Regions from separate parts of the Homo sapiens genome. Here region 2 is linked to region 1. The links come from fine-mapping of genetic effects on gene expression. Tissue or cell type: prefrontal cortex. Region 1 holds a variant in brackets; the other region holds the start of a gene. All regions are shown on one strand. Distances are from middle to middle.

Region 1 (4,397 bases):
CAACTTTATCCTGTACTTTGGGAGAGACAAAGTATTGAGAGATGGTGGGGCAGTGGGCGGGGGTGGGAAAGAGGCCAGAGAGACCTCAGTGCTGCTTCTTCCGTTCAGCATGTCAAAGCACTGTATTTTAGAGTACTGGTTTCTGAGCCCCAACATTTCCCTGTCTAAAACTTCCCTAGAAGTTTCACATATTAAAAGCTGAGTTAGTGGCTGTGAAAAGACAAATCAAGTTAGTAACTCAATGGCAAAAGATCTCATCAAATCAGTCTCTTATTTTGGGGAATAGGCCAGTCCAATTAAACAGCTGTGTCTTATTTTAGAAGACAGCATTGCAGATGGGCCCTCGAAGCTAGGCCTCTATATGTAAGGTAGGCAAACATATTTTTAATAAGAGGCATCTCTACAGAAACAGAAGAAAAACAATGGTCCATGTCTGGAGTAGTCTATAAGCTAATTATTGGAGTCTCTGAAGCATCTTCAGGTTGCAGTGGCAATCTGACACATTTATTATTATTATTATTATTATGGTTTGAATCAGGTATTCAAGCAAACTTTTTGCACAGTCCATATATCTGTAGGCATAAAGGCTGTTAATATGTAAGTTGCTCTGGTGATTTTTGTTGAAGTTTATATTAAGTTCTAGCTTTAGGGCTTTAAGAAAAGCAGTTTTAATTTTTAGTGATTTTAAGTGAGAAAAATGTGAAAACATTAGTTTGGAGACTTGTAGCTAAAAAAGAATTTAGGATTTGTTCTAAATTGCAGGCAAATAATAAAAACTCAAAAATAATGGACAAGGCTAGAATCTAATACATGTATACTATGGTTTTTCCTTTAATATGTATTTTTTCTAGTCCCCCTTTTAAAAAAATCAAATACAAATTATACTAGGACCAATTTATTTGTAAAATAAATTTTAGTCTTACCATATTTGGCCTGATTATTTGTATAGTGCAGCAAGAATAGTGATTCACCATATGGACTTTTTAAAAACGGACTTCACTGGAACTTTTAATAAGGAATTTTGGATTAGACTTTTAAAAGCCTCAAGGGTAGGAAAGCAAGCTGAGCATTTGCCATCAGACTGTGCCTCTAATATCGGTATGAACTGGGTGAAATTTTCACTTTTCGAGGTCCTTGAAGTATCTTGAGGTTCTCAGGCCTGCCAGAAAGTGACATTTTTTACTTATCCCAAGGTCAGGAACCTTATAAGGGAACTGTGTGGATAGGGTACAGGGCCAGTCTCTTTTTTGTTTTTTTGTTTTTAAACTTTATTGGCTTTATAAAGTCAACCTCAATCCCTCAAAGCAGTCTGGTCATATATGAAAACATGACATTTTAGTCAAATCCTTGGTAAAATAACCAGTGTTTTCAATGTGTCCTGTTACAAAAGAAAAGATTCTTATGGAACTTATGTAAATAATTAGATTGTCATAAAACTAGAATATTTATGGATAGTTTCTAAATTCTGGAGAAATCATCTAGAGAGAAAAGTAAATGTTTTGATTTTGTTCATAAGTATATTTTAACTAATTGCTGTAAGTTATGAATAGCTTAGAAGAAAAAATTTTCTTGGCTCTGGAAAACAAAACATAGAAAGAATCAGCAATGTTTTAAATAAAAAGTCAACAAAAAATCATTTTGGGCCAAGTGTGGTGGCTCACGCCTGTAATCCCAGCACTTTGGGAGGCCGAGGCGGGTGGATTGCTTGAGCCCTGGAGTTCAAGATTAGCCTGGGCAACATGGTGAAACTCCATCTTTACCAAAAATACAAAAACTAGCCAGTCTCATAATCTGGTCTCAAAATAAATAAATCAATCAATAAATAAATACATAGATTAACATTTAAAAATAAAATAATAATAAATTATTTTAGTCCACCATCAGTTCAGTTCCATGTAATTCTTGTTTTGCTTGATGTTGGGTTAGCAATCTTTATGAATGTATCAGCTTTTTAATTAGAGTCCTGGAAGTTTTTTTACCTAGTCCAGTGGTATGATTTCCAAAGTCACCAGACACCTGTATGTAAGAGCATTTGTCAGGGTCTTTTATTTTTTTAATTTAATATTTTTATTTTTATTATGAAAAATTTCAAACATATATGAAAGTAAATAGCACAATAAACCCATCATCCTCACCTCCCAGATTCAGCTACTATCAATAATTTTTCTTTTTAAAGTATTTTAAAACAAACCACAGAATACATTTCCCTGCTTTCTCCCACTGATTTGTCTGAATTGGGATCAAAACAAGTTACACACATTATATTTGAGTTTTATGGCTCTGAAATATCTGGTAAAAAAAAAAAA[AG/G]TTCCTTTTTAAGATTTAAGAGGCAAACACTATCTGAAATACAAAGAAGGAATTGTGAGGACAGTATGCCAGCAATCATATTTTGGTAAGGGTAGGAGCATGGATGAGGAAAAAAATTAATGGAAAAAGACCAGCAGGAAATAAAACAGAATGCCAATAATGATGTGTTTGGGTAGAAAGACTATGAGTAAATTTTTCTACTTTTTTGTATATTCTAATGTTTTTTTGAAAACATGTATAACTTATGTACGTGTACTTTTTCATTTTACCTATAATATTTTATTATGCCTCTAGTAAGGCATTTAAAAAACATATTCACCATGTCATTATTATACCTTTTAAAAATAATTTAATACCAAATATCTAATATCCATATTTCCCTGATTATCTCAAACCTGCCCCCTCCCTTTTTTTTATAACTGGTTTGTTCAAATTAAGATGTAAACATGGTCTGTACATTGCTGTTGGTTATGAGGTCTTATTTAATCTTTACATATAGGGGGGTGTGATTTATGTCAAAGATGGTTATGTGATGGTCTGCATAAAGAATGTATTTCTTTTTTAAAATTTTTATTTTTATTTTATTTCTTTTTTTTTTTTTTTGAGACAGAGTTTCACTCTTGTTGCCCAAGCTGGAGTGCAATGGCACAATCTCGGCTCACTGCAACCTCTGCCTCCCAAGTTCAAGTGATTCCCCTGCCTCAGACTCCTGAGTAACTGGGATTACAGGTGTGCACCACCACGCCCAGCTAATTTTTGCATTTTTAGTAGAGACGGGGTTTCACTGTGTTAGCCAGGACGGTCTCGACCTTCTGACCTCATGATCCGCCCACCTCAGCCTCCCAAAGTGCTGGGATTACAGGCATGAGCCACCACGCCCAGCCTTTTATTTTATTTCAATAGCTTTTGAAATATAAGTGGTTTTGGTTACATGGATGAATCGTATAGTGGTGAAGTCTGAGATTTTAGTGTATTCATCATCCAAGTAGTATACATTGTACCCAATATGTAGTGTTTGTTTGTTTGAGACAGAGTCTTGCTCTGTCGCCAGGCTGGGGTGCAATGGCATGATCTTGGCTCACTGCAACCTCCATCTCCCCAGGTTCAAGCGATTCCCCTGCCGCAGCCCCCCAAGTAGCTGGGATTACAGGAACCTGCCACCATGCCTGGTTAATTTTTTGTATTTTAGAAGAGACAGGGTTTCACCGTGTTGGCCAGGATGGTTTCTATCTCCTGACCTCATGATCCACCCGCCTCAGCCTTCCAAAGTGCTGGGATTACAGGTGTGAGCCACCGTGCCCAGCCCCCAATATGTAGTTTTTATCTCTCATCCCTTCTCCCACCCTCCCCCTTTTGAGTCTCTGGAGTCCATTATATAACTCTGTATGCCAAGAAGCAAATTTTGGACTGTAGCCAATTGTAAACTGCTTTTTGAGGAGAATCAAGAAAAACAATTAATATTCTGTAGATGACAAAAGACTTAGAATAGCCATGGTTAGGCTGAGTGCAGTGGCTCACACCTGTAATCCCAACACTTTGGGAGGCCAAGGCAAGTGAATCACCTGAGGTCAGGAGTTTGAGACCAGCCTGGCCAACCCGGCGAAACCCCACCTCTACTAAAAATACAAAAAAAATTAGCTGGGCTTGGTGGCACACGCCTGTAGTCCCAGCTACTTGGGAGGCTGAGGCAGGAGAATTGCTTGAACCCAGGAGGCGGAGTTTGCAGTGAGCCAAGATCGCGCCACTGCACTCCAGCTTTGGTGACAAGAGCGAGACGCCATCTCAAAAAAAAAAAAAGAAAATAGCCATGGTAAAAGACACCAATTGACAAGGGAATTTTGTTATTTTTGTGACATATAATAACATAATAATTATGACTGATAACATATATCAAGACATCAGAATTTCAGGAATCCAATATAATTTTGGAACACATGAATATTTGTATAAATATAATTCAAAGCAAGTTAAATACCATTTCTTATTTGACAATGTTTCTCACATGATTTTCTTATATCGAATAAGCCCTAATATGTCTCTCTTGAGCTTCCAGGGGCCCTTTCCGGAATATCCAAAAGTTTGAGTTCAAA
Region 2 (4,359 bases), 42 kb before region 1:
CTATCACAGCCACGGAAGATGGGAGATGAAAGAATCTTTTAGCGCAGTCCTAACTTTATAAACCGAAGCTGAAGGTAACGGACCCGCCCAAGGCCACCCGCTAGTTACCAGGGACCTTGGTCGGGTTCACAGTGTATCCAACACCGGGGCCCCGGCCTGGCCCATGGCAGATGCCGGGGACCGCGGATCCGACGTATCTACGGTCCATTCCCGTTTCCACTCACCTTGCGCCGCCGCCGGTGCGGCTCGCCGACCGCACCTAGCAGTGTGTGCGAGCCCAGCAGGATGTGCGCACTCTGCGGCCACTGGCTGCGCACCAGGCGGTGCTCGCCCAGCAGGATGGTGCGCACGTTCTCCGCGCCGCTCACGCGGATCACTGGCCTGCCCAGCAGGTGCGTCTTGAACACTGTCCCATAGCGCTCTCGGCGAGAACTGTGGAAGCGCGAGCCCTGCGGGCGAGGCGGAGGGTGGAGAGCTGGAACTTCTGGGCCTGGGCTGGGATCTGACCCAGACCTTCCAGCTGCCTTTTGATCACAACTTCCTGTCCCTGGCTGGCGCGTTTACAAAACAAGATCCCCAGTGGGCCTGGTATCTACTCTACGGGAATGTACATGCTCCTGTTCCTATTGGTGAGATGAGGAAACAGACTCAGAGTGAAGAAGTGAGGGCCCAAGGGCTCACAGCTGGGCCAAGCTCCAGGCTCCTTTTCTACCCTTGCAGGACGTGCTCCTCAGACCCCTTCCTAAAACCCCTTATGTTTACCCCCTGCGTTGTGTCTGGGAGTTGCTCTGGGGGGAATTCCAGTGACTTGAGGTCCCTTCGAGGGAACGGAGTATCTAGGTAAAGGCGAGAGTTGTGCGCGCTTCCCGGGGTCGTGGGCGATGGGCAGGGACTGGCTACAAATCCCATGGGCATTGAGACTGAGGAGGGTCCAGTGGGAGCCGGGGGAAGAAGGGACCGTATTAGCGCTCGGGGTCGAAGGACTGCTCACCTGAACTAACCAGTGCAGCGTTTCGCCGAAGAAGGGCCACCCCATGGAGCCCTTGGGCAGAGGCAGGGTGGAGGCCCGGTCCCGGCTCAGCATCCAGCGGAGGGTCCAGAGGTGCTGGGCCAGGCTGAGCAGCAGGCCCGCGCACAGGAGAGCAGTGCCCGCCGCCCCCAGCACTGACAGGCAGCTCAGCCCCCAAGGGAACATGATGAGCCCGCGGGGGCCAGGCCGCTCAGAGCGCAGGGAGAGCAGGGGACGCAAGAACCGGGGCGCGAGCAGTGCGCAGTGCTCACCTGTTCCGTCCGCAAAAGGCCTGGGGTTTGGGGGCAAAGCCCGAGATTTATAAGCTCAGGCCAGAACTCTGTTCTAAAAACAGACGGACGGTGAAAGACTGCAGTGACCGTGCGCCCTTAGGGAACGTGCCTTCCTCGAGGCCGGCACGCTCAGGACTTTTTCCTGGCTCCTGGGCCCAAATGCCAGTCCCTCTCGAAGGTGCCTGCTGCCTCGGGAACGCTCACTCCCGGCTCCGCGGGGCACCTCCCACCTCCTCCCGGGCTCAGCACCCTTTGGATAGAAGAAGGGAAGGAGGGCGAAAGAAGAGCAACTCACCAGTGTTGCCAACCTGGTCTGCAGACCCCCGCCCCACCTGTCCCTCCTCCAGTCGTTTAACCCTTCTTGGCCCACGCTGGACACGTTTATATAGATATTGGCTCCCCCCCTACGGACCGATCCCGGTTCACACAACGTGACGTGTCTTTGCATATTTAAAGCGCTCCACGCAGAGTGGTGATTGGAGGCGGTGGGCAGCGGCGCGCTCACGGAGGGGCTCTGAGTAGGGAGTGGCAGGCGCCGGGGCGGCTCGAGCTGGGCTGGGGGCTCGCCCCGCGAGCGTCCTCGGGCGGGGCCTGCGGGTTCGCGCCAGAGCTTCCCCGCTCTTCGCAGGCGCTCAGAAAGTGGGCGAACCCAACGCGCAGAACTGACCCGGGCTTGCGCCCCGCAGTGCTCCTGGCCCACCCCCGGCCGCTGGCTCCCTCTGCCGTCCCCGCCCTCGAGCTTCTAGGTGCCTTTCTCTCGCCACTCCAAGGTGAAAGAACTGGGCTTTTCTCTCCTTTGCTCCGACTATTTCAGGGAAACTGCAGTCGTCGACGCCTGCGTTGGCATCGCAAAAGCCCAGGAGGGATAGCGCAGCCGAGATTCTCCGACAGCTCCCCACCTCTCCCGGCTCTCTGATCTACCACGTCAGGTATCCTTCCAAAGATGGCAGTTCCACTACTGCCCTAGGCTTCATAAAGACGTCCTAAGCCTCCAGAAGCGGATACCCACGAGCACCTTTCCGGTCTCAAGGACCGAATTCATCCTTCCCTGCACATCCTTCCCTCCCTCCCCCGAGTTTGCCCGACGACTCTTGTCAATCTACATTGTTGCGTTTTGGGCTTTGTGCGTCCCATTCAAGGGTTCCAAATGCCTCAGGACTCACTCGTTCTTGTCCCTACAGTGCAACCTGGGGTGTGTGTGGAGGGGTGCAGGGTGTTTATATTATTGGTAAGAGTAAAGAGGTCCCACAGTGGTCTCCTCCAGGCAGTGCAAAGGCAGTATCTCTCTGAATCCCGGGACGTCTCAGCCAAAGCAGGGAAGACACCCCAAGTACGCTGGAAGGCTGGGTAAGGCGCGAAGGGCAGCCCCATTCCAGTCTTCAAAGAGAGCTAGCTGTTCACCGCTCCTCTCCTCCAGATTTCACCGTGCCTGAAGAACTACCATGCTTTTCATGTAATATTTTTAAAAACATTAAATACTTTGGATTAAGAGATGATCGAGAGAACAAGTGCGCATATGTATATATATGTGTGTGTGTGTGTGTGTGTATGTATATATACTGTTTTGGTGCCACTCCCATTCCAGTAACTAGGAAATAATATGCCTTTTCTCCAGGAAGCACTTGTTTTAAATCAGTAAGCTCTGAATAGACAAAATAGTAATGCATTTTCAACAACTTGCTCAATATTTTTAATATTTCATCACAAAATCCAGAGATGTACATATAATTCTTTACACTTATTTTACAGAATCAGGCATAGTTTCTTACAGGCCTAAATCCTGAAAAGGCAAAGGGAAGATTCAGCATAAATACAACAAAGGGAGAATAAAGACTGGATTTATATTGCCATTTGGACCACGGAAACATACACAAAGGAAAATGTACATTTGTTTTAGGTTTTCCAGAGTTCATTTGGTTTGGCTTGTTTCCACAATGAGGATAAAGTACTGAAATCTGCTATTTGAAGAAAGTAACCTGACCCCTGTGGTAACTTCTGTGTGCAGGAACCATCTACCCTCGCACAAGCTGCACCTGAAGTGGTTAGCCCCATTTAGTTCCTGTCCTCTCTTTTAACTGGAACCAAACCAAACCAAACAAATCCAGAATGGGGTCACCTACAAGCAATATAGTTAGAAATATTAACCCTGATGAACAGAAACAACACTGCATCTTTAGAAAATCCAAAACCTTTTGTTCATATTCAGAACGATTAAATTAAACCACCCAAGTAGAACAAATAATTCACATTCTTACTGAGTTAAATCAAGTTTGATTTCAGGCAGCTTTTAAGATTTGTCTATTTCCCCTTCAGAATTAGCAGAATTAGAAATTTTGGTCTGCTTAAATCACATTGAGGTGAAAATAAAAGCTAAAAGTCAGAAAATGGTAGTGAAATACTACCATATCAGACATGATTGAATTCCAAAGCCATATACTGATCAAAAAACAGATTATCATTCAAGTCTAAATAGAAAAAAATACTTATGAGTAGAGGCATATGTTTTTCAAATGTATTTGTAATCAATTTCATGTATAATTTGTGACAATTTATGTATTACACTTTTGCATTTTCCCCTAAAAGTGAAAAAATGGTCATTTTTTTCCATATATAAAATAGTATTCGATTATTTAAAAATCCATACAAATGATATTTATTACTATTTCTTGTTTAAGCCCTCATGTATCTTCTCTATTGTATTTTTGGATTCTGTAAACAAATTACTGTATCATGACCAATACTTGCTCAAGATCAACATTGAATCATGGATTTGGTGTCACTGAGTGCAAGCCATGTGAGGTCTACATGTGCTGGGACATACCATTCACCAAACTTCTCAGCTGTTTCACGACTGTCTCTATCAACTTCTGTTTGTCTCGATCATTCTTCCTGAACTGAGCAAATATATTGTTCTTTTTGCTAGTATCCTTCATCCTAGAAACATATGTGAATGAAGAAGCTTGGTAAAAGAAAATTAAAAGCTAAGCTGTCACAAGTAAAATATCTTGGCATGCTCTGAATTATCCCACACTAATCCTATGCTTGAAAAATATAGTT

Which allele goes with the higher level. Alleles are on the strand shown, and positions count from the first base shown. SD is a standard deviation of normalised expression in the study named.
In carriers of allele AG in region 1, the expression in prefrontal cortex of the gene that starts at base 1,661 in region 2 tends to be higher than with G alone (moderate effect, 0.63 SD a copy in CommonMind).

The links. PIP is the estimated chance that this variant, and not a neighbour inherited with it, causes the effect. A credible set is the group of variants that fine-mapping cannot tell apart.
Region 2: it holds the start of CYP26C1, and the variant in region 1 is the best candidate, but not a certain one, in a credible set for the expression of CYP26C1 in prefrontal cortex (CommonMind, PIP 0.51).

What each region holds. Positions count from the first base shown.
Region 1 is chr10:93,016,524-93,020,920 of GRCh38, reverse strand. The region is part of intron 20 of EXOC6 (exocyst complex component 6); the gene reads right to left. Among named protein-coding and RNA genes, the nearest start is that of CYP26C1, 42 kb to the left of the region's middle. The variant AG/G (reference allele first, on the strand shown) is at 2,307.
Region 2 is chr10:93,058,100-93,062,458 of GRCh38, reverse strand. It overlaps CYP26C1 (cytochrome P450 family 26 subfamily C member 1), which reads right to left and starts at 1,661. Exons shown (of 6, transcript NM_183374.3): 1 at 992-1,661; 2 at 225-449. The coding sequence starts at 1,195. It overlaps EXOC6 (exocyst complex component 6), which reads right to left. Exons shown (of 22, transcript NM_019053.6): 22 at 2,969-4,236. The coding sequence ends at 4,104. RefSeq lists an enhancer at 734-1,643.